Linked DNA regions of Homo sapiens. The protein of the gene in region 1 binds, or shares a complex with, the protein of each later gene. Each region holds a gene or a part of one and is shown on either strand. Other genes may lie near its edges.

Region 1 (7,098 bases):
CCTCTTACCTTAAACTCCTCATCTTGTCAAATGGGAAGAAAATAGTGTCTACTCCTAGGGACTGTTAATAAGGGCCAAATGAGATAGACCTGTTAAATCCCAGGCATAAAACCTGACAAGGAGCAAGTTCTCAAATCTTACTGTTATACATCACTCCAGGTTTACGAAAGAAGAATCTCAACTGAGGTTAAATAACACAGGGTATACTGTAGTCAAAGAAGCACAGGCTTTGGAGTCAGATTTATGTCTAAGTTTTACTTATGAGTCTTATGTACCTGGACAGGTTACTGAAAGTCATCTGTAAAACAGGAGGTGAAGACAAGTAACAAATGATTGTTATAGGCATTAAAGTGGATAATTCTGTAAAGCACCTAAAAAGGTGTCTGGAACATAGCAAGTACTCAGTAAATGGTAGCCAGTATTCCCTCAAATTTTTCTTTTCAACAATTTCAATTTTCTACACATTTACACAGATTACATGTCATCACTGGCTAAAAGGATGTCACCAAAAATCTGTTAATGTCTCAAATGATATAACAATTTTTTTAAAATGGTGACTCAGATTTTAAAAGTTGTTTCATTTTGCTACATTTGACAATTGTTCACTTAGTCATTAAACTTGGGTCATATTATCTAACACTCATAGTGAAAGCTCTTGGGAAATTAAACATTAAAAATTGACACCCAACTACCAAATCAAGAGTAGAATTACAGGTGTATATTACAATCTAATAAATAAAGCTAACTTTGTAACTCAAATCTCAATAGGACATATTTAGACTTACTGCTTTAACTCCACAGATTACTGTAGTATTTCCCAACTTCACTAAAGCAGAACCATCTGCGGTACTAATTGAACCTGAAAAGATAAGCAAAATGAAAGGTTCATAAAAGGAAAACAGCTACAAAATTATCCACATAATAATTAAAATTAAGTGTTTTAGTTTGCTGTGTACGATTATCTTGCTACCCCTCTCAGTTGCTTATGAATATTTCAAGTTAGAATAATTGATTTTTACATAACTATTTTAAATTAGTGTTTAAATAATTATTCACCTGTCCTTGAATTTGTGTTAATCATTTTTCATTTAGTTACAGGGCTTTTGTACGGATAAAAATCTCTTGACAAAAAAAATCATCAAATCCTTTAGACAAAGAATTTGGGTGAAAAACTGTTTGGCTGGTTCATAGACTAAAACTTGGGAATATCATACAGTTGAAAGTGGAAAATACATCCTTACCGATGTTGACAGTTGTGGTTCTGAATTCACCAAGTTCTCTTCCATCAGGACGGCAGTTCTCTTTCTAAATAAATATGTTTATATAAAAATAGATTATACCTATTACATATTTTACACATCTATCACAAGTTTTACACACACATTAAATGTTACTTCAAATGGATTAATTTAAATTACTTGAAATTCATCTTTAAAAGCAGCTCGTTATCAAAACGCATAACATGTACATAACCTTTACTCACCAGAAATCTCCTGTAATACTCCAGAGGTTCCACGGTTCTGAAACACGTGTTAAAAATATATCTGAGATAAACTGATGAATCTTAACATAAATCCAGAAATTGGCAAAGATCTTAAGTGTGGTGATGCAGCATAAATCTCCACAACTTTTTAACTAAAAGTAATTCTAGAAAGTAAAAATCCTTGTAGTAGCAATCACATTCAATTGCTGTCCTTAACTCTGCCATAAACGATTAGAAGATTGGCGTCTAAAAGCCCTTTGAGTGAGCTCTTTAAAAGCTCAATCTGTGTCAAAAGAATCATGTCGTTCTTGCTCTGAAACAAGGATTCAGAGTGATCTAGTGATCATGAAAAAAGATTATTTTAATAATCTAGTGATCATGAATAGTTAACCTCTTACTAGATAACTCAGGAAACAAAAAGGTACATCTTTATTTTCACTGTAAGTGAAATTTAGCATATTCTTCAATTATGACTGTAAGCAATAAGCCATAGTAACATTAGCAGTACCTGCAACTTTAACAACCACGGAGACCACAGATGTTTTCGTTTGCACCCTTTAGCTGTGTAAGGTATGTTCAGGCTCACCGTTACTTTGAAATCCCAGGAGTTACTACTAGTCTCGCCACTAGATCTTGTTTACGAAGGTTAATTTTAAACCAAGTATATATACTACTATATCGTGTCTTCGGAGTTTATACTCATAGATAACTATTTCAACATAATGGATTTCCTTTGGAATCCTATTTATTTTATCCATTTTTTAAAAACTTTAAGAAAGTCCACTGGCTTCACACACACAAAAACCTTCCAAACGAGGCATGATCCTTTTAGAAATAAATTACGGGAGAGGGAGAAGCAGGCGGTATGTGGTTCTGATGCAACAATCTTGATTGATTGATTCTGACAGAGTCTCACTCTGTCGCCCAGGCTGGAGTGCAGTGGCGCGATCTCGGCTCACTACAACCTCTGCCTCCCGGGTTCAAGCGATTCTCCTGCCTCAGCCTCCTGAGTAGCTGGGACTACAGGCGCCCGCCACCACGCCCGGCTAATTTTTATATTTTTATTAGAGACAGTGTTTCACCATGTACACCAGGCTGGTCTCGAACTCCTGACGTCAGGTGATCCGCCCGCCTCGTCCTCCAAAGTGCTGGGATTACAGGCGTGAACCGCCGCGCCCGGCCACAATCTTTAAAAGATTACAACTATGTCTCCTGGGACTGCACGTTCACTACACACCACGCTCACGAGCGCTCGCAGCGGGTATGGAACTCTACAGAGTCCTTTCATCTCCCGTCTCACTGAGGAAGAAGCCCTTTCTTTTCACTGTGACAACCTCCAGGTCCTCCCGCCCATCGTCTGCCTCGACGAGGAAGGAAATGGCACCCCAACGGGGTCGGCCTCCAGGTGAGAGAATCCCAGCTAAGAGTTAAAGGAAGCTGCCGTCCGCCAGGGTACAGAACTCTACCCGCCACCCGCCAACACTCACTTGAACCCAGCCGCCATCTTCCCGCCCGCGCGTCTGCGCCTGCGCCGCTCCTCTCCTGCGCGCCTGTTCCGCCGCCGCACTTTCGACACGGATGCCGGGGCCGCTCACGCCACGGGAAATGCCAAGGTGGGGACGCGACGAAAGGTCCCTGGCCCGCCCTCGCATCGACTTTCCCCTGCCCAGACGCCTTTCTAGGTTTCCTTGCCTTGGACGTATTTTGACGAATCTGCTGTTAAAGAAGGAGCGGGTCTCCCTCTTTATAAAAGAGCTGGTGCTGTGACTCAGAATAACACCAACAGTTCGGAGATAACAGGGTTTCTAGCGCAGAATCAAGCAGTGCGTGTGGAGCGTTATTCCAATGTTTCTGCGTCTTTTTTCTGCCTGTGACTTAGGCTCAGCCCTGGCCTTGCCTCTTCACTGGTCAAGGGCTCCGTGCTCCAACACATGAGAAACCTGAACTTTTTTTTTTTTTTTTTTTGAGACAGAGTCTCGCTCTGTCGTCCAGGCTGGAGTGCAGTGGCGCGATCTCGGCTCACTGCAAGCTCCGCCTCCCGGGTTCACGCCATTCTCCTGCCTCAGCCTCCCGAGTAGCTGGAACTACAGACGCCCGCCACCGCGCCCCGCTAATTTTTTGTATTTTTAGTACAGACGGGGTTTCACCGTGTTAGCCAGGATGGTCTCGATCTCCTGACCTTGTGATCCGCCCGCCTCGTCCTCCCAAAGTGCTGGGATTACAGGCGTGAGCCACGGCGCTCGGCCGAGAAACCTGAACTTTCTGTGCGCTCATTGTCCGCACCACGTTCTGCTCTGCAGGTCCCGGAGCTGAGGGCTCCTAAGCATCACCTTGTGTTGTAGACTGTGTCGTGCTCAAGGCTGCCATCTCCCTCCTAGGTGGGGTTACCAGATAAAATACAGGATACCACGTTAAATTTGAATGTCTGATAAACACAGCGTGGTTTTTTTGTTTTTTGTTTTTGTTTTTTTGTGGGTTTTTTTTTTTTTAAAGCATGAGTATGCCCCAAATAGAGCATGCAATTAGTTGTTGCCAGAACCTGGAGGGAGCTGGGAAGGCTTTACAGATAGATAGTGGTGATGGTTGCACAGTATGTATGTAATTAATGCCACTCACTATTGTAAACTTAAAATGATTAAAATGGCAACTTTTTATTTTACCACAGTTTATAAAAACTAATGTAATAAACCAGAAACCTGTAACTGGATGAGTCGTATGGTATGTGGCTATCTTAATAAGGCTGTTAAAAACATGATTAGTTTTTTAATCTGAAATTCAAATTAAGTAGACGTCTTGCATACTTGATAAACCTGGCGCCCCGCTGTGGAACCTAGCGCTCCTCTCCACCGACTGGGCGCCGAGGGCACGAGAGCGGCGTTTTCTCCGCCTCGCCACGCGGGGGCGCTGCGGCCAGCGGGCGCGACCTCTCTGGCGGCGGGGCCGGGTCGCGCGGGCGCGCTTCCGCCTGTGTGGAGGTGCGGGATTGGGCGGGCTGCCACGGCATGGAGAATGGCTCCGCTTCTGTTGCAGCTGGCGGTGCTCGGCGCGGCGCTGGCGGCCGCAGCCCTCGTACTGGTGAGAACAGGGATGGGAACCCGCGCAGGCCGGGGCTTACCGCTCTCCTGGAGACTGCGGCTCCTCAGGCGTCCCCTCCTCCGCGCTACCAGTTCTCGGAGAAGTCCCTTTTCCCCTAGATTCCCCCAAATTCCTGACCTCGGAGTTTCCTGGAGTTTCACTCTCCTTTTCTTCGGTTCTTTAATTTTCCCTTGGAATCTTATCTCTTTGTGTGCTCAGAGACTTGTAAGTTTTTTCACACTGGAGCGCACCCACCCGGCCTGGCATCATCGCCGCTTCCATCGCCCCTGGCGCCCGCGCCCCCTACCCACCTCCTCTGTCAACCTCGACCTCTCCCAGACTCTCCGGGACCTGCAGCCGCTGCAGTTCTGCTCCACCCAGGGAGGTCTCGAGCCCCCAGAAGGGGTGTGCTCCCTAGCCTGCTCCCTTGGCTGATGTGGTTAAGCAAATAGGGGTGACGGAGCCTTGACGGCAGCCATCTGTTACAAATGGGAATAAATGCGTGGATCGATGAGACCCACTAGGGACGCAGGGTGAGCGAGAGAGACAGGCCTCAGGCGCCTTGTCCGGGGTCGCATTGTGTCCCAGAATTAAGCACCCTAAATATACTGCCCCTAAACAAGGCAGGACGATAGAATGCAAACTCGATTGTCTTTGCCCTTGCTCTCGAAACACAAAAACATTGTAAACACTTGCTGATTGTTAAGTGGTAGAAAATTGGCGAACTCTCTCCCGCACACCTTGGAATGAGCCTGCCCTCTAGTTAGTAAGTGGAGAGGATTTCAGCTTCCTTGACATTCAGATTAGCCACCTAGACAGCACTGCCAGGAAGGCCACTCTGCCATCTTTCCAGAGGTTGTATAAATTTACAGTTTAGATAAAATGTAATGCATCCTTACTTCTTTGTTGATAGTATCTGGGTGAGAGAGGAGTCCTCTCTTGCCCTAACTAGTAGAGATTTCAGGGTTTAGGGCTTTTTTGTTTTTTCAAGTTTTTGAGCAAACCAGGATTGATTGATTGATTGATTGATTTTTGGCGGGGTGCGGGCGGGGAGTGGATTCACACATTCTTAGATTGAAGCTGCCTTACTTTGGGTCTTTTGCACAGATTTTATGGGATTGTACTGACGGTATTTGTTCCCACTAGCTTGAAGTGATAAGAGCTACCATTTATTGATTGTAGTACTTACTATATGTTGTGTTGCACTTGGTTTAATAGGAGTTATTAAATCTTTAACACTGTGACATATATGTTATCATTAGCATTATTTTACTGGTGAGGAAACATGTTGGAGAAATGAGCTCGTGTACTCAAATGTTGCACAACTAGTGAAACTTAGGTTTTTTAAATGCCAGAGCAAGAAATCATTAAAAAAATAATTTTTCAAAACCTCATCCTGTCTTCATATGTATCCACTCTCCATTACTCACAGTCTCACCTCCTTTCTGAATTATTTTAAAACAACTCGAAGACATTTTATCTTTAAATCCTCAGCATTTATTTCTAACAGATAAGGTCCTTCTTTTTAAAATACCACAATAAAGTGGTCACAGATTTAAATTTATTCTGTGATTTCAAATGCCCCCTCAGTTCACTTGCCCTCACTTGTCTCATATATGTCTCAGTATATATGTCTGTTTGTTCCAATCAGGATCCAAACAAGTGCCACACATTGTACTCTGTTGATGTCTTGAGTCTCTTAATCAGTTGACAGTTTCTCCTCCCCCTTTTTTTCTTTTCCTTGTCTTTTTTTTTTTTTTTTTTTTTTGAGACGGAGTCTGGCTCTTGTCACCCAGGCTGGAGTGCAGTGGTGTGATCTTGGCTCACTGCAACCTCTGCCCTCAAGCAATTCTCCTGCCTCAGCCTCCTGAGTAGCTGGGATTACAGGCGCCTACCACCACTCCCGGTTAATTTTTGTACTTTTAATAGAGATGGGGTTTCGCCATGTTGGCCAGGCTGGTCTCGAACTCCTGAACTCAGGTGATCCACCCTCCTCGGCCTCCCAAACTTCTGGGATTACAGACATGAGCCACCGCGCCCGGCCTTTTTCCTTGTCTTTAATATGATCATTTGTCCTGTAGAACTTCTCACAATTTGGATTTCTTTGATTGCATCCCCTTAATGCCTTTTAACATCTTCTATCTCAAATTTTCTATAAACTGGTAGTTAGGATGGAGAGACCTGATCACATACATACTCGATGTGTTTTTTAATCAAGAAAAAATTGTGAGTGATGCTTCTTCCTTTCTCTTGTGTCTCATCAGGAGTCATGTAATGGCCATTTGTCTCTGGTGTTAAGATGGATCTGTGGTTTCAAATGTTGCCAGCCAGACCCACCAGTTTATAAAGTTTGTCATCAGCCTAATGGTTTTAGTAGTCATTGAGGATCATTACCTAAATGCTTTATTTCATTGCGGGTTGCAAAGTGAAATATTCTCATTGTATCCTTCATTTATTACCTAGAGTTTTGTAATGAAAGAAATCTCATCCTCAGCTATTCATTTACCCTAAAATACCTTTCATACATATAAAACGCAAAA
Region 2 (2,840 bases), on another chromosome or scaffold:
TTTTAAGTGATTAAATTATGGTATTGTTGTGTCTGGAATATCTGATATTAGGGTTTTTTTTTTTTTTTTTTACAGTTTTTGATATGCTTTATTTTGGGTATGTAGTTTACAAAATATAAAGGAAATATAAGGAGTGTTCTCTTTTTTTTTTAAATAAAAAGTGTATTTTTAACTGGGCATGGTGGCTCACTCCTGTAACCCCAGCACTGTGGGAGGCTGAGGCTGGTGAATCGCCTGAGTCCAGGAGTTTGAGACCAGCCTGGGCAACAAGGTGAAACCCTGTTTCTATCAAAAAAAAAAAAAAAAAAAAAAAAGGAAAAAAAATAAGTCAGGCATGGTGGTATGCACCTGTAGTCCCAGCTACTTGAAGGCTGAGGCAGGAGGATCGCTTGTGCCTGGGAGGTTGAAGCTACAGTGAGCTATGGTCAAGCTACTGCACTCCATTATAGGCAACCCTATCTCAAAAAAGCAAAGCAAAACAAAACATTTTTCCCCTTGATTATAGAGGTTTGAGAAAAATTTGAGGGAAGATTCAGAAAATTACCTGTAACTGAACAGAATGCCACCAGCTTGGGCTTATTCTGCATGCATAATTATGAACATTTTCCCAGCTCTTGTGAAAATTCTCACATTCATAGAAAGATAGATGCACCAGTAAAATAAATACCTGTAAATACGATAATAATTTCATAATAATATGCTTCACCTAGATTTACCAGTTACTAATATTTTGCCAGTTTTATTTTCTCACACACTTTTGTTGAGCATCTGAAAACCATACACATGATGACAGTTCAACCCATAATGTTTTAGTTTGCATCTCCCAAGAATAAGGTTTTTCTTCTGTATAACAAGAATATTGTAATCATACCTAAGAAAATGAATTTTATTACATATGTGTTCTATATTCAAATTTCTGTAATTACCCCTAAGATGTCTTTTAAATGATTTTTAGCATTGATAGTCTGTGCCTGTGTAGATTATAACATTGGCTATTGCAAAATAATGGTTTTCTTTTTCTCTTTTTTTTTGAGACGAAATCTTGCTCTATTGTCCAAGCTGGAGGGCAGTGGCACAATCTCGGCTCACTGCAACCTCCGCCTCCCAGGTTCAAGCAGTTCTCATGCTTCACCCTCCTGAGTAGCTGGGATTACAGGCAGGTGCCACTGTGCTCTGCTAATTTTTATATTTTTAGTAGAGACGGAGTTTCATCGAGCTGGCCAGACTGGTCTTGAACTCCTGACCTCAAGTGATCCACCTGCCTCGTCCTCCCAAAGTGCTGGGGTTACAGGTGTGAGCCACTGCACCCAGCCTAAAATGATGGTTTTCTGATTCTAGCATTTCTTTTATAAGATTGCTATGTAAAGCACAGCTTTTCTTTTTTTAGGGAAAAATGTCTTTTAACAGCTGCAAAATAAATATTCTTTCAATGGAATGACAATTATTATTTTTGCCATATATTTATTTTAAAAATTTATGTATAATGGTAACCTGAGCCTGCATGTTATTCATGTGTGGTGCCATACTGATCTTTAATTTTAATGTGAAGCAAGTACTAATATAGTAAAGCATAAATTATATAAAATTTGCTTTATATTTTGGATTGCAAATTAATTGCTGTACTTTATAGAAAAGTTTCCCAAATCCGTTTTACTTTTTTGTATTTGAAATTTAATCACAGGTGGAATCTTAAAGAGAGCATTTAGGGATATTGTAAACAGATGTTATTAAGGACTAATGTTAACAAACATTGAAGAAGAGAAAACAGTATTTGTTTTTAGCTTAACATCTTAGTGGAGTGAAATATTTTCAGTATATTTATTTTATTTATTTATTAATTATTTTTTTTTTTGAGATGGAGTCTGGCTGTATTGTCCAGGCTGGAGTGCAGCGGTGCAATCTCAGCTCACTGCAACCTCTGCCTCCTGGGTTCAAGCGATTCTTGTGTCTCAGCCTCCCGAGTAGTTGGGATTTACAAGTCAATTTTTTTTTTAACTAAAACTACAGAATCTATTTTTCTTGGTCTCATACTCAGTTTTTTATGTAGTCACTTAGTAAATAACCTAATTTGCTTGTTTTCTCCACACTAATTTTAGGGTGAATTCCTCATTTCGCTTTTCAGATCATGGGGTGAGGGGGATGGTTGTGTGTGTGAGGAACTGAGGAATCAGATGGAAAACAATGCCTCTGCTCCTTTGAGTATAATCAGTGATATTTGAGGTTCCAGGGTTAAATGCTGCATTTTTATTTCTGACGTTCGTACCTTAAAATATTTGAAGAAAATAAACTATTTCATTGTTGTCAGAAATGTAGTTCTTTTATTTTCCTGCCCCTCTCCCCTTTCTAAGTTTCTAGAATGTTGAGTAGGTAGAACATAGATGCTCCTTTTAGGATCTTTTGCTGTGGAATGGTCCACAGGTGAATGGCAGTAATATCTTAAAATGATTGGCCCCCTCTCTCTTTGTTTCCATCAAGGATACAGTTGATATATTAGTTGGATGGCATATAGATCATACTCAGAAACCTTCGCTCACGCAGCAGGTATCTGGTAAGTCTTGCAGCCTATACCAGTTATTTAAATACTGTCGGGGAGGAGCAGTGGTCCCCCAGTGACCATCTATCAATAACATTTCTTTAATAATGCAAGAAAACTAATTCAGAGAAATGTTATATTGTAAATGAACATTACTTGTTAGCTAAATATATATTTTCAGAAGAAATTACTAGTAGGTGGGTAGAATAAGTACAGACAGGACTTACCCAAGTTATTTGTAGTTTGTACTGGTAGGAAAAAGTATATGGTAAGAATATATTGCAGTGGCAATACCCTGAAGTGGACA
Region 3 (7,007 bases), on another chromosome or scaffold:
TCCGCCTGCCTCAGCCTCCCAAAGCTCTGGGATTACAGGCGTGAGCCACCATGCCTGGCTGTTGTACTTTCAGAGCCCAAGGTAAGCAGCAGGAAAAGCCCAGGGGGCTCCAAACCATAGTCCAGAGGTTGTGGGACATGGCCCCCACATCCCTAGGGTGGGTACCCAGAGCCAGCTGAGTTCTTCCTCAGCCCTTTGCTCAGGGCCCCCGATGTGCTGGAATAAGGGTAACAGATTCCTCAGTCTAATGGCCTGGCTCATCTTGCCAGGCCCTGCCTCCTGCTCAGCTGCCTTGAGTCCTTACTGGGACATGCTGCTTTTTCCACCCAGGGCCTCCCCTACAGAAACCCCCTAATCCACTGTTCTCTTCAGGGTTTGAATCAGGCTACACAGAGATAGGCCGTTCATGTGTGGGCGAGGGTCCCTAATCATCCCCAGGAGCCAGCACCAGACCAGGCTCTGCCAGCCTTCACATGGCTCTGAAGTGCTGTTAGGTGATAACGTACAGTGAGGGGTGTGTGGGCAGAGGAGGGTTTTATTCTGGACATGGGTGGCTGGGTGGTCAGTCCCCCAGCAAGATAGAGGCCTCACGCACATGCTGCCGGACCACTCGATCTAAGAGGGTGTGCACATCTCGGGCAGCCTGGGCAGCAGCCTCCAACACCCGCTCCAGGTGGTCCTCGTGCAGCCGGGCATCCATCTCAAGCAGCGCAATCTGTCCTGAGGCTGGCAGCAGGGCCAGGGCCAGCTGGGGGCCACCAGCTGCTTCCTCCACATGGCTGAGGTCCGCCAGGGCTGTGCCGTCCACGAAGCCAGCTGAGCACGCACACACAAAGTCTCTCATGGGTATCCCGGCATCCAGCACTGCCAGCGTGGCTGCATTCACACAAGCTGCATAGGTCCCACCATCTGCCTGTAGCACCTGCAGGGAACCCAGGGTGTCAGTCTATCAGACTCCCTCCCCAACCCCATCACACCCTTCCCTCCCTGGATTGACGGCTGCAGCTGGCTCACCTGCACATAGATATCAATCTGGGAGCGTGGGTGCAGCTGTGTGAGGATGGCTGCTTCGAAAGTCTGGCGGAGCTGCAGGCCCATCTCACAGGACTTACGGTCCCCATGTGGCCGTCGCTTGCGCTCACCTGTGCTGAAGGTCGCTGAACTATATTGACAGTTCACTAGGGCCCTGTCCGGCAGGGCTCGAGCCCGGGAGCCCCGGATCTGGAAGAGGACAGACACATGAGCCAGGCCCACTCCTTCCAGCTCACACTCCACTGTCCTCTGTGGGTCTGCCTCTCCCTCCACTTTCAATGCCTCAGCAAGGGGCAACTGCGTTACCTCCAAAACAAAGCCCCCTGTTTTGCGCTCTCTGTCTTGCATGTGTCGCCCTCTGGCACCTTTTAATTGGCTTCCTTGTGTCCATCCTTGCCCCATTCCCTGCCAACCCAAGTTTACAAACATCAACGCTGCTTCTGTCTCACCTACACACTCAAATCCTAACTACCTTACAAAGGTTTCACATTACATATGAAATAAGATCCCAAATCATTTCCCTACTCTACAAAACCCTAAGTCCTCACCTCCCCGGGAACCCTCAACCTGATTTGGAGTTATCCCCTCTTTCCCCACCAGCAGTCTTTCTGCTCTGCATAAGTGCCTTGCTTGTTTTCACCACCGTGGTCTTCGCCCTTCTGGTTCCCTCCGCCTGGAAAGCAGAGCTCCCACACTCATGCGCTAAGCAAACACTCTTTCAATACCTTCGCTGGCCAGGCAGTTACAGCGCTGGAAGCACAGTAATGAAACCAGATAGTTTTATGTAAAGTTCCTTTCTTTAGGAAGCTTATGTTCCAGCGAGGAAACAAAGGGGAAAATGCTTAAGCAAAATAGGCATTTGAGATTGTAGGTGCACAAAACAAAGGGTTTATTGTAGGGCGAGAAGTACCGCGTGGATAATAAGGTCGTCTGGGAAGGAGTGACGTCGGAGTAGAGCTGAAAGGAGAGGGAGCGAGTGGGGGAGTGCCTAGCACGTTGAAGAGCCGCAAAGAGGAAGGAGGGCGCAGGGACAGAGGCCGATGAGAAAGGCAGGACCACCGCGCAGCACACTAAGGACTTGCGTTTACTCCGAGTGAGATGCGGTGCTGAGCATCGGCTGTGTAGACTGAGGCGCGCCGGCCGTTGCCCCTCAAGTCCCCGAGCCAGCGCTCAGCCCGGCTGCCCCGCAGCTCCCACGGCCACACGATTCCCCATCCCGCGCGCCCACTCGCCTCGTGCGGGCCGTAGACCACAGCCAGTGCCTTGGTGTTGCCCTGCTCAATGTAGGCCGAGCCGTCAGCCTGCGCGAACACGCCCATCCGCGCCTGGATCTTGCGCAGCTCCCCGGCGCGCCGCCCGTCCACCCGGTAGCCCTGGTCCGACAAGAGCTCCAGCCCCGCCATGCTGCCCGGCCGCCAGGTCCGCTCTCTGCCTACTTCTCTGAGCCGCGGGAGAACTACAGCTCCCGGCGGCTCCGACCGCCCGGAATCTACGGTTTCCGGAGGTCCGCCATCACTTCCGGTTCCGGGGAACTACAGCTCTCCGCGGCCCTGACCTCCGTGGATCTGCGGTTTCCGGCGTTCCGCTGTCACTTCCTGTCCTGGTGAACTGGAGTTCACCGCGGCCCCGACCTCCCCGGATCTACGGTTTCCGGCGGTCCGGCTCTACTTCTGTCTCCGGGGAACTGCGGCGGCGCTATCGGGGAAGCAGCGGCTGGGCCCGCAGCCGTTCCCGGAGCTGTGCCACGGGTGCCAGGAGGTGGGCGCCCGCCGAAGGAGGAATTGCCCAGTCACGCCCTCGTGACCAGTGGTGCCTGCATTCAGCCCTTCCCCGCGCCCCAAGTGTGAAAGTGGAAGGATGAACCCAGTGGGGTGCGACACTGACAGGAGAAGGCATTGAGCGGTCCTAGGAAAGTGACCAGGCTGGTGTCCCAGGATGGTCCACACCTGGCACCTCTCCAGTCCTCTCATGCCCTCCCTTTACACCGAGCTTCCACACTGCAGTCAGGTGGGCCTCCCTTTTCCCTTTGAGGATGCAGATTTCCTCATCCTTTCCAGAGAGGGGTTGTATGTCTGTTTATCTCTTGCCACTTAACCTCAGCGGCTTCAAATAATAAAAATCATTCTATTATTATGTGCTGCAATCTGGGGTTATCTAGGCTCAGCTAGATAGTTTGCACTTAGGATCTCTCCTACAGTTGCTGCCAGATGGTAGCTGGGGCTGCAGCCATCCTAAAGCTTTCTCCCTCACATCTTTGGTGGCTGATGCTGGTGGCGGGCCAGGACCTCATCTGTGCCTGTCAGGCAGCACACCTACATGTGGCTTCTCCATGCAACCAGGGCTTCCTTGCAGTATGGCAACTGGGTTCCAAGGGTAGCCTTCCAGGACAACAAGGTGGACAACATGTGCATGGTATTTTTAGGACCTAACCTCAGAAGTCACATAGTGTCCCTCCTGCCACACTCTGTGGGTCAAGGCAGTCAGACAGATCTGCCCAGGCTTAAGGGATGAGGACAGGGACCCCACCCTTCAGTGGGAGGAGTGTCAATATTAGACTGTAGGAAGAGCAGGCGGGCTAGGGAAATGTGGTCTGCTGCAGGGGCCCAAGTTCAGTTGTCACAGCATCCCCTCCAAGGTGGTTAAGCTCTCCTGAAAGACTGAGGCATGAGAGTGAGTGAGCAAGCCACAACCCTGCTGCTGCAGCTGGTCTGAGGCCATGATGGGTCACCACCCTCTGCCACTTGCCACCCCGGATTCCCCACCCTCTGCTCTACAGCCACTCTGCTTATTGTGGAGCCCTTTTCCCCTTTCAGTCTGAGCTCTTACTGTCCCTGTTCTTACTGAGTCATCGTTTTTTTCGTTTGTTTCTTTGTTTTGTTTTGTTTTTTGAGATGGAGTCTTACTCTGCACCCAGGCTAGAGTGCCGTGGCACAATGTCAGCGCACTGCACCCTCCACCTCCAGGGTTCAAGTGATTCTTCTATCTCAGCCTCCCAAGTAGCTGGGAAGGTGGGATTACAGGCACCTGCCACTATGCCTGGCTAAGGTTTTTTTTTTTTTTTTGGAGATGGAGTCTCACTGTCACCCAGGCTGGAGTGCAGTGGCACAATCTCAGCTCACTGCAACCTCCACCTCCTGGGTTCAAACGATTCTCCTACCTCAGCCTCCCAGGTAGCTGGGATTACAGGCATGCACCACCATGCCCTGCTAACTTTTTTTTTGTAGTTTTAGTAGAGATGGGGTTTCACCATGTTGACCAGGCTGATCTTGAACTCCTGACCTCAGGTGATCCACCTGCCTCGGCCTCCCGCCACCACGCATGGCCATTACTGGGTTGTCCACTGACAGTCCTTGCCGCATGCGGGAAGACTAGACGCCCAGGGAGCTCTGTGGACTGCCCACCCCAGTTGTGTAGCATTGACCGTAGCAACTCAGGACAATGAGGACGATGTTGGTCTTCAGCCTAAGGTGTCCAAAGTGGGCCAGTGATAGCCGCTACTTCAAGATCAGTGGAACCTTTGCTGTGTTCCCTGGTGGAAGTATTCATCTTCAGGAACCAGGCCTCCAACCTGGCAGCATTACAGGTTTAGGATTATGGGGCCACTCCTACCTCACACCTTTGGTTCTCTGACCCTCGTACTCCAGCTTTAGGGTACACACATGGGTCGATTCAAATTTTGGAGGCCTAAAGCTTATACAAATTCAGGGGCCGTGAGAGGTATCCCCAAGACCCCTCCAGAGTAACCGATTTGCTAGAAGGACTCACTATAGACTTGTCTTCACGCCTAAGATTATTACACAGAGAGGATATAAGTCTGAATCAGCAAAGAGAAAAGGTGCATGGGATGAATTCCACAGGAAATCAGGCGTGAGCTGGCCACGTCCTCTCCTGGTGGACTCCACGGGAAGAAGCTGGAGCCGTGTGTGTGAAATGCTGTCTGCCAGGGAAGCTTCTTAGACACTCAGCGCCCTGGGGTTTTATGGAGGGCTGGTCACATACACAGTCTGTGCCAAGCATGTGCCCAAATTCCAGACCCCTAGAAGCAACACAGGTGTTCAGCATGAGCCATATTTGTACAAACAGTCTAGGCACAGTGAGACACGCTTACCAGAGAGTGGGGGAACCATGAAAAACCCAAGTTCCCAGACACCCACTCTTCAAACTTGCCTGTGAAGAAGAGCTTCTCAGGCCTGCTGTTAACTCTTCTATGCAGTCTTCTTTTGAAACATAAGACAAAATTGTATATCCAAAACTAAGTGAATAGTGAGAAAAGAAGTCCCAACACATAACAAACATTTTAAAAGTTGTCAAATACTACAAACATCACAAAATGCAGAAAACCTGCCTGACATATTTGACTCCAACAGGTTTCCCCTACATTTCTTTGATGCGTTCTCTGATGCTCTCTTAAGATGACAACACCTTTTTATAACGTAACCTTCTATATGTAGAAAGAATATGGCAGACGCGGTGCTCGCGCTTGTAATCCCAGCACTTTTGGGAGGCAGAGGCAGGCGGATCACTTGAGCCTAGGAGTTCAAGATCAGCTTGGACAACATGGCAAAACCCCATCTCTACAAAAAATGCAAAAAATCAGCTGGACATGGGCCGGGCGCGGTGGCTCACGCCTGTAATCCCAGCACTTTGGGAGGCCGAGGCGGGCAGATCACGAGGTCAGGAGATCGAGACCATCCTGGCCAACACGGTGAAACCCTGACTCTACTAAAAATATCAAAAATTAGCCGGGCGTGGTGGCGGGCACCTGTAGTCCCAGCTACTCGGGAGGCTGAGGCAGGAGAATGGCGTGAACCCAGGAGGCGGAGGTTGCAGTGAGCCGAAATCGCACCACTGCACTCCAGCCTGGGCGACAGAGCGAGACTCTGTCTCAAAAAAAAAAAAAAATTAACTGGACATGGTGGTGCATACCTGTGGTCCCAGCTACTTGGGAGGTGGAGGTGGGAGGCTCACTTGAGCCCAGGAGGTCAAGGCTGCAGTAAGCTGTGGTCACACCACTGCACTCCAGCCTGGGCAACAGAATGAGACCCTGTCAAAACAAAAAACAAATAAACAAAAACCAAGAAAATGATTTAGTTTCTCCTCTCACATGTTTGATCAAAATTTAATTTTATTACTAATAATTAAGTTGCTTTCAGGTAAAAGCTCCTTTGGGTAATATGTACATTTTTAGAATTGTCATTAAATTGGAGGAAACCGCTTATCAAATTTCTTCCACATATGAGCCATAACAGTTCAGGGCTTGGCTGGGTGAGGTAGCTCGTGCCTGTAATCCAACACTTTGGGAAGCTGAGGCAGGAGGATCGCTTGAGGCCAGGTGTCCGAGACCAGCCTGGGCAACATAGTGACACACTATCTCTACAAAAAAAAATTTAAAAATTAACTGGGTATGGTGGCACACGCCTGTAGTTCCAGCTACTTGAGAGACTGAGACGGGAGGGTGGCCTGAGCCGAGGGAGTTGGAGGATGCTGTGAGCTATGATCGTGCCACGGTACTCCTGCCCATACCACAGAGCCAGGCTGTCTCAAAAAAACAAACCAAAAAACCCAGAACCACCCCCCGCCCCAAAAAAATGAATTTGAGTTTGGGTTTTCTTGTTTGTGACTAATCTTAGATCCTCTTTGAGTTGGCACTTGGCCAATTTCATCAGCTTGTTGTGTCATGACATGCAGCCGAGGGAGGTGGGTGTTTCCGGAAGCCATTTCTACACCAGAATGACTAGCGATAGCATAACTGTATCGGGAAGTGACTGTTCCCGCTAAGCCCAAGCAAAACGTAGCTTCAACTCAACCTCCCGGGAGCTGGACCCCACAACACCCCCTCCAGCTCTATGCAGCAGGGGAGGGGGTAACTGATGGGGGTAACTGATGGCAGGTTGCAGGGGGAAGAGACAGTTTTAGCTGGTTGTGTTTAAAATATTTCACTTTTGCAAATTTTACGAAATATATGACTCTGTAAA
Region 4 (7,650 bases), on another chromosome or scaffold:
TGGATCTAAGCATTGATATATGATGAACAGAATAGATAAAGTCCCTGTTTTCAGCAATGCATGTTCTAGTGGGGGGAGACTGCAATCAATGAACAAAAAAAAAAAAAAAAAGAAAGAAAATTGAAGCCCAGGCATGGTGGCTCACACCTGTAATCCCAGCACTGTGGGAGGCCAAGGTGGGCAGATCACTTCAGGTCAGGAGATTGAAACAAGCCTGGCCAACATGGTGAAACCCCGTATTTCCTAAAAATACAAAAATTAGCTGGGCGTGGTGATGGGTTCCTGTAATCCCAGCTACTCCGGAGGCTGAGGCAGGAGAATCTCTTTAACCCAGGAGGCAGAGGTTGCAGTGAGCTGAGATCGCGCCATTGCACTCCAGCCTGGGTGACAAGACCAAGTCTCTCTCTCAAAAAAGAAAGAAAAGAAAAGAAAAAGAAAAATCAGTGACAAGAAGTAAAACAGGATCAAGGGATTAAAAAAAAGGACTGGAAAGTTATTCCAGATAAGGTGATCAGGGAAGTCTTCTCTGAGGAGGTGATGTTTGAGCAAGCCATGAGTGAGGAGAAGGAGCCAGCCACACAAAAGCCTGGGAGAAGAGAATTCATGCAGAAAGAGACCAGAGTGAAGGGCCCTGGAGTGATGAGAAGCTTGGTGCTGTGGAACCGAGGGGAAGCCAGCTAGTCTTGAGGCAGGAGAATAGGGTCTGGAGGCAGGGAACATAAGGCTGATTCACACTGACTTTCTAGAACTAAATCAAAAGGAAAACCCCAACTTTCCACGTCCAAGTAACCAAAGGACCAGAGGCTACTCCCTTTGCAATCCCAGCTTTTCTGTGTGCAGATGAAAAACTGAAAGTACCTCTGATTGCTCCCTTCCCACTACCAGTCAGGCTGGTAGGTGGCCAAGTCTTCATTTGCATGGGAGTATAACTTTGTAACTTCACTTCAGCCTCTGATTGATAACTTTCCACAGCCAATCAGACATTGGCGTAGGGTGTAACTTTTAACTTCAGCCTCTGATTGGCCACTTTCCACAACCAATCAGACTGATCACGGGCCACTCCTTCATTTACACAGGGCGTACACCAAATAACCAATGGGAAACCTTTAGAGGGTATTTAAACCCCAGAAACTTCTGTAAGGAGCCTGTTGAGTTTCTTTGCTTGAGCTGTTCTTGCCCTGTAGAGTGTACTTTCGTTTTCAATAAATCTCTGCTTTTGTTGCTTTATTCTTTCCTTGTTTTGTCTGTATGTTTTGTCCAAGACGCCGAGAAGCTGGGCACCCTCCACCGTTAACAGTCCGGCTGCAGCATAGTGAGTAACGCAGTGGGTTAGGACGAGCGTGAGGTCAGAGACAGGCAGGAGTCAAGAAGTGCTGGAAGCAGAGAAGTGATTTAATCTGTTTTTAAAGCTCTCTCTGGCTGCTGTGCGGAGATTGGATGATAGGAAGGACAAAAGTAGAATTAGGAAGACAAGCTAGGAGGTTATCTCCCTGGTAAGAGATGCCGTTGATCAGCCTGGGGCAGTGGCTGCGGAGATGCACAGATGTGTGGCATCAGTGAATCTTAGACCTTTTCCGCCATTGAAATTACATAGGGAGTTAAAACACGCACAGACTTCTGGACCTTACCTTTGCAGAGCCTTGTGAAAGGCAAATAAATCTTGGGGCCCCAAAATCACTAAGCTAAAGGGAAAAGTAAGTCAAGCTGGGAACTGCTTAGGGCAAACCTGCCTCCCGTTCTATTCAAAGTCACCCCTCTGCTCACTGAGATAAATGCATACCTGATTGCCTCCTTTGGAGACGCTAATCAGAAACTAAAAATACAAAAAATGCAACCATTTGTTTCTTTTTTCTTTCTTTTTTTTTTTTTTTTTTTTTGAGACGGAGTCTCACTCTGTCGCCCAGGCTGGAGTACAGCGGTGCGATCTCGGCTCACTGCAAACTCCGCGTCCCGGGTTGAAGCCATTCTCCTGCCTCAGCCTCCCGAGTAACTGGGACTACAGGCACCAGCCACCATACCCGGCTAATTTTTTTTTTTTTTTTTTTTTTGTATTTTTAGTAGAGACGGGGTTTCACCGTGTTAGCCAGGGTAGTCTCGATCTCCTGACCTCGTGATCCGCCCACCTCGGCCTCCCAAAGTGCTGGGATTACAGGCGTGAGCCACCGCGCCTGGCCTCAACCATTTGTTTCTTATCTACCTATCACCAGGAAGCCCCTTCCCAGCTTCGAGTTGTCCAGCCTTTCCAGACCGAACCAATATTCATCTCACATATGTTGATTGATGCCTCATGTCTCCCCAAAATGTATAAAACCAAACTGCGCTCCGACCACCTTGGGCACAGGTTGTCAGGACCTCCTGAGCTTGTGCCACAGGCACATCCTCAATCTTGGTGAAATAAACTTTCTAAATTAACTGAGACCTGTCTCAGATATTCGGGGTTTACAGCCTCAATGCCTAAGGAATCTATACTTTTTACAAGCCCCCTGGGATGTGCTGCTTCGTCTCCGGGTACCCACTTGTCTACTGGTCGTAAAGGGGTAAGTGTGGCCGGGCTTGGTGGCTCATGCCTGTAATCCCAGCACTTTGGGAGGCCAAGGTGGGCGGATCACTTGAGTTTAGGAGTTCGAGATCAGGTTGGGCAACACGGTGAAACCCTGTCTTCACAAGACAAATACAAAAAATTAGCCGAGCCTGGTGGCATGTGCCTGTAGTCCAAGCTATTCAAGAGGCTGAGGTGGTAGGATTACCTGAGCCCAGGAGGACGAGGCTGCAGTAAGCCATAATCGTGTCATTGTACTCCAGCCTGGGTGACAAAGACTCTGTCTCGAAAAAAATAAAAATAAAAAAAGGTGCGTGTGATGATGCAGAAAGAGGAGCACTGGGGATGGGAGAGGGGGAGTCCCTGTCGTTTTGGATTCTAGTCCCAGTTACGGGTCTGTTTGGGGGGCTCGGTGGCCCCAAGTGATCATCAGGGATAGCAATGCCTATCTCGAAGATGGGCTGAAAGTGAGGAATACATAACATAGTATTTGTAAAGCACTCAGCAAAGGACCAGCCGAAGCACTCGGGCTATTTCTGGTAAAGGGTGCAGGCTCTGGGGTAAATCGCGTGCAGTTGGAACACACATCGGCTTTGCAGCCATCTGCTAATGTGAATTCCATTCCTTTTGGGGCCTCGATTTCCTCCTCCATAAACTGGTATCCACAATGCCAACCTTGTGAACGCTGTGAGAATGCGCGGGGTAAAGGCGACGTCTCTCCCTCCCGGGAAGAACTTGGATGGTGTCAGGCCTACACTCTCGCTCCGCCTAGGGCCGCTCGCTGGGCCTGGCTCCCCGGCTGCCGGGCTACGCGAGCTCAGAGGACACCATCGCCCTCTTATGGCCGCGGCAGGACTGGACCGAGGGGCTGGGCTCTAGTGCCTTCCTCCAGGCACGGCAGAGGGCGAGGGTCTGGCAGCCCGCTTACCCAGGGCCTCGGGGCACTAGCATTCATGTCATCGACTGCCTGGCAGGGCTGGCTTTCTTAAGTGTGGTCGTGAGACTTGCTTAAGTGGAAGAAATGCTGTCGCTTTGGAGATTTATAAAACAATTGGCTCGATGGATCTTTCTTCAGGAGGCGGACTTGGTTTACCGGCTTTACTGACCACAGCTGATGCCAATGATTTCATTTAATCGTCTTTAGAGTCCCTGTGCATGGGGAGTTACCATCCCCAATTAGTTTCTTGTGAATGCAGGGCAAGGAGAGGGAGAGGGTAGTGGGGGACGGGGAGAAGGGGCGAGGGGTACCCTCCTATTAAAACGGAGCCGCAGAAAAACCCACAGAGACATCCGTCTGTTCCCCGCTGAGTCCTTAGAACAGCGCCTGGCACACAGAGAGCGCTCAACTCGCTGTGTAACTAAATGCAAGCCAAGATCTTCGCATTGTGTGTGCTCTTCCCTTCCCTACCAAATATACCTGGCTTGCAAGGTTTGACCTGTTTTCTTAGACGATTTTTAACTTGTTTCCAAAAGAAATATTGGAGTAAATTAGCTTGTTCAAAGGAGTCCTTATGAAAGGACAGAACCAAGTGAGAAGTATCTGGAGCCCGGTTTGGGGTTATAGATGATGATGTTGAGCCAGCACCCACGGGGCGGCCGCAATGTAGAATCCTGGCGCTACTGGGAACCGTGTGGAAAGGGGCTCTTCTTTCTGTTCAAATAGTGTTTTCTGTAGATCCCATCTCTCCATCCTCCTGAGCTCTCTCTTACAAAATATCGGATTTCAGCAGCTTAGAATTGGACAGAAACTCAGAGGTCCGTTTCTCAATTATCTCTAACCCTGGTAAACAATAAATGGGATGATGAGTACAAGACAGTTTTGGTAAAAAGTCACACGCCACACAACGTGAGATTTTATTATTCCACGGGTGCTTCCTTGCCAATAGTAGACATGGCAGCTCGGCTCCCTTCCCTTCGGGTTCGCCTTATTGTTGCCAATTGTAAACATGGCCTCTAGGCCGTGAGTTCTCATTGGCAGCTGCTCTGAGTCCCCGCCCTTCCCCGCCCCTCCGAACGCGGCCTGGAGTTGTGGAGTCGGATATCGCAGCTCCCGACTGAGCTGCGCCTGCGCAACTCATTGGCGCCAAGATGGCGATGGAGATGAGGCTTCCAGTGGCTCGCAAGCCTCTTAGCGAGAGACTGGGCCGCGACACTAAGAAACATCTAGTGGTGCCGGGGGATACAATCACTACGGACACAGGATTCATGCGGTACGTGGGGACTTGGGGGAGTCGAGGCTTCAGAGAGCGGCTTCAGGGCTCTCTGCACGTGGTCCAGGCCTCGTATCCCTGTGTGTGTAACTCCCCGCGGGACCCAGGGCACTTCGTCTGAGCATCCTACACACCTCGCTTCCGAGCCTCGTGCTTCTTGCTCCCTGCATCTTGTGTGTCCCCGTCTGCATTTGTCTCAGCTCCCTGAAACCCTCCACTCCTGACCTCCGGTGGCTGTGACTTTTGGGTCTTCTGCCTGAAGTCCAAATCTTTGATCCTTCCTTGTGGGAGACCTGGAAAGCTGGGGAGGGTTAGGTGCAGGCTCTTTTCCAGTTTTCAGCTCTCTGAGGGGACGGTGGGCGTTCTTGGCTGCCTCCTCTTCAGTTTAGAATCCGTAATTGTTCGATCTTAGGGCAAACAGTTACATTGTGCTGCATGCACCCATTTATACACATTTTGAATCTAAGGGGTGTAGTGCAGTGTATTGTGGTTAAGAGGGAAGGCTCTTGAGTCAGACAGTTGGGGTTCCGGTCCTGCTACCATCACATCTTATTAGCGGCATTGCCTCTCCACGGTCAGTTTCCTCATCTGTAAGATAGTGATAATAACAGTATGATACGGTAATGAGGATTAAATGAGACAATTATGTAAGAAAAGAAGTAAAACCAGCCATTATATCATCATAGATAACACTAGTGTTTCAACCTTTATTATTATTATTTTTTTACTTGTATATGTACAAGGGGCACAGCATTCATAGCATTGCCCTTTAACCTGTTAGTTTAAGGTTAGTGGATACCAGGAAATTTTTTTTTCTTTTTTGAGACGGAGTCTGTCTTAGATCAGTCGTGCGATCTCGGCTCACTGCAACCTCTGCCTCCTGGGTTCAAGTGATTCTCCTGCCTCAGCCTCCTGAGTAGCTGGGATTACAGGTGCACGCCACCATGCCTAGCTAATTTTTGGTTTTTTTTTTTTTTAGTAGAGACAGGGTTTCACTGTGTTGGCCAGGCTGGTCTCGATCCCCTGACCTCAAGTGTGATCTGCCCGCCTCGGCCTCCCAAAGTGCTGGGATTACAGGCATGAGCCACCATGCCTGGCCCCTAGGAAATCTTAAGATTCATTCTTTCATTAATGCTTTCAACATATATTTTGTGCAGTTGGGTTATTATGGCAGAGTGAAAAATCTCTGTCCTGGTGGAGTTCTAACAGGGAGAGATAGATAATAAGCGCAATGAATAAGTTATTCAGAATGTTAGGCAATAATGCAATAGGGAAAAAAGTGGAGCAGGGTCAATGGTATGTGGGGGGAATGGTGGCAACAGGGTGGGCTGTGTTTTCAATGGCACAGTCAAGGTAGGCCTGCTGCAGAAAGTGACACCTGAGCAGACCTGAGTGAGAGGAGTGATGTCCAAGTAGCTGTCTGGAGAAGGAGCACTGAAGGCAGAGGGAGCAGCCAGCACAGAAGCCACGCTTTGCAGGGGGAGCCTGTTAGCTTTGAGGAACACGTTGTTCTTGAAGGGAGAGAAGTCATTTCGAGTTACCCTCGTATCCTTTCTTTGTATCTTCGCCTTGCATCAGGGGCCATGGAACGTATATGGGAGAAGAGAAGCTCATTGCATCTGTTGCTGGCTCTGTGGAGAGAGTAAACAAGTTGATCTGTGTGAAAGCTTTGAAAACCAGGTGAGAACAAAAGGTGTGTATTCCCTTTCTTGCAGCATCAGGTTGTACAACCAGGCTTTTCCTGCCCCCTCCTTATCCCCCACCCCACCCCTGCCTGCCCTGTCATGCTGTAAGTCTGAGGTTTTGACCATGACTGTAGGTGGGGTGGTGCAGATCAGTGCAGGCTTCAGAGGTTTCCCCATGTTATGTCACCACTCCAAGCCTTGGTTACCTCCTCTGCAAAGTGAGTATAATAGCATGGCCTACTTCATAGGATTTTCTCTTTTTTTTTTTTTTTTTTTTTCCGAGATGGAGTCTTACTCTGTTGCCGAGGCTGGAGTGCAGTGGCGTGATCTCGGCTCACTACAACCTTCGCCTCCCGGGTTCAAACAATTCTCCTTCTTCAGCCTCCCGAGTAGCTGGGATTACAGGCGCCCTCCACCACGCCTGGCTAATTTTTTTCGATTTTTAGTAGAGACAGGGTTTCACCATGTTGGCCAGGCTGGTCTCGAACTGCTGACCTCTGATGATTTCCCCCCACTTGGCCTCCCAAAGTGCTGGGATTACAGGCGTGAGCCACTGTGCCTGGCCTAGGATTTTCTTTAGAATTCAGTGAGATGGTGCCTGTAAAGTATTTAGCACAGAGCCTGATACCTAGAAGCATTCAATGAAGGTTAGCCCCAGAAAGCAAGCCAGTGGGGTTGGAACAGAGTGAGTGAGGGGGAGAGAAGGGGCAGATGTAAGCAGAGAGCTGAGGTGGGCGGGCGTGGGCCTGCCTTGTAGCCAGAGTAAGCATTTTGGCTTCTACTTTGTGTAATCTGGGAAGCACTGGAAGGGGTGGAGCAGAGGAGGGACTTGATCTGGACTTAAGCTCACTCTGGCTGCTGATGGGAGATTGAAGGGGGATAGGGCAAGCTTAGGGAGGTGGATTAGGGACCATACTCATGATCTGAAGTGATGGTGGCTTCAACTAAGGTGGGAGCAGTGGAAGGTGGAGGAGTGATTGGAATCTACACAGATTTTATTTTCCGAGTGTTTTTTTAAAATCATGAAAAGCTGTTGGGTTTTGTATTCTTTGGGCTTTACTGTGCATAGGACCCCGTCAACTGTGAATAGAAATAAGTTTACTTCTTCCTTTCCAATTTGGATGCCTTTTATTTCCTGCATATGTTTTAAGGGTAGAGCCAACAGGTTTTGCTACTGGACTTGTCCTGGAGCGTGAGAGAGAGAGAGGAATCAAGG

What was found.
Region 2: EXOSC8 (region 1) and EXOSC6 share a complex: the UniProt entries of both Homo sapiens proteins name them as parts of the RNA exosome core complex.
Region 3: EXOSC8 (region 1) and EXOSC4 share a complex: the UniProt entries of both Homo sapiens proteins name them as parts of the RNA exosome core complex.
Region 4: EXOSC8 (region 1) and EXOSC2 share a complex: the UniProt entries of both Homo sapiens proteins name them as parts of the RNA exosome core complex.

The regions. Positions count from the first base shown.
Region 1 is NC_000013.11:36,996,695-37,003,792, reverse strand, and holds the start of EXOSC8 (exosome complex component RRP43), read right to left. Parts: upstream 3,008-7,098; 5' UTR 2,988-3,007; coding exon 2,971-2,987; intron 1,521-2,970; coding exon 1,484-1,520; intron 1,306-1,483; coding exon 1,242-1,305; intron 860-1,241; coding exon 786-859; intron 1-785. Other genes in the region: ALG5 (dolichyl-phosphate beta-glucosyltransferase), read left to right, coding at 4,493-4,558. UniProt on the Homo sapiens protein: Non-catalytic component of the RNA exosome complex which has 3'->5' exoribonuclease activity and participates in a multitude of cellular RNA processing and degradation events.
Region 2 is NC_000016.10:70,246,246-70,249,085, reverse strand, and holds the end of EXOSC6 (exosome complex component MTR3), read left to right. Parts: 3' UTR 1-2,308; downstream 2,309-2,840. UniProt on the Homo sapiens protein: Non-catalytic component of the RNA exosome complex which has 3'->5' exoribonuclease activity and participates in a multitude of cellular RNA processing and degradation events.
Region 3 is NC_000008.11:144,074,157-144,081,163, reverse strand, and holds EXOSC4 (exosome complex component RRP41), read right to left. Parts: upstream 2,493-7,007; 5' UTR 2,436-2,492; coding exon 2,265-2,435; exon of another isoform or gene 1,222-2,264; coding exon 1,015-1,221; exon of another isoform or gene 923-1,014; coding exon 563-922; 3' UTR 516-562; downstream 1-515. UniProt on the Homo sapiens protein: Non-catalytic component of the RNA exosome complex which has 3'->5' exoribonuclease activity and participates in a multitude of cellular RNA processing and degradation events.
Region 4 is NC_000009.12:130,689,165-130,696,814, forward strand, and holds the start of EXOSC2 (exosome complex component RRP4), read left to right. Parts: upstream 1-4,615; 5' UTR 4,616-4,627; coding exon 4,628-4,749; intron 4,750-6,327; coding exon 6,328-6,429; exon of another isoform or gene 6,430-6,442; intron 6,443-7,650. UniProt on the Homo sapiens protein: Non-catalytic component of the RNA exosome complex which has 3'->5' exoribonuclease activity and participates in a multitude of cellular RNA processing and degradation events.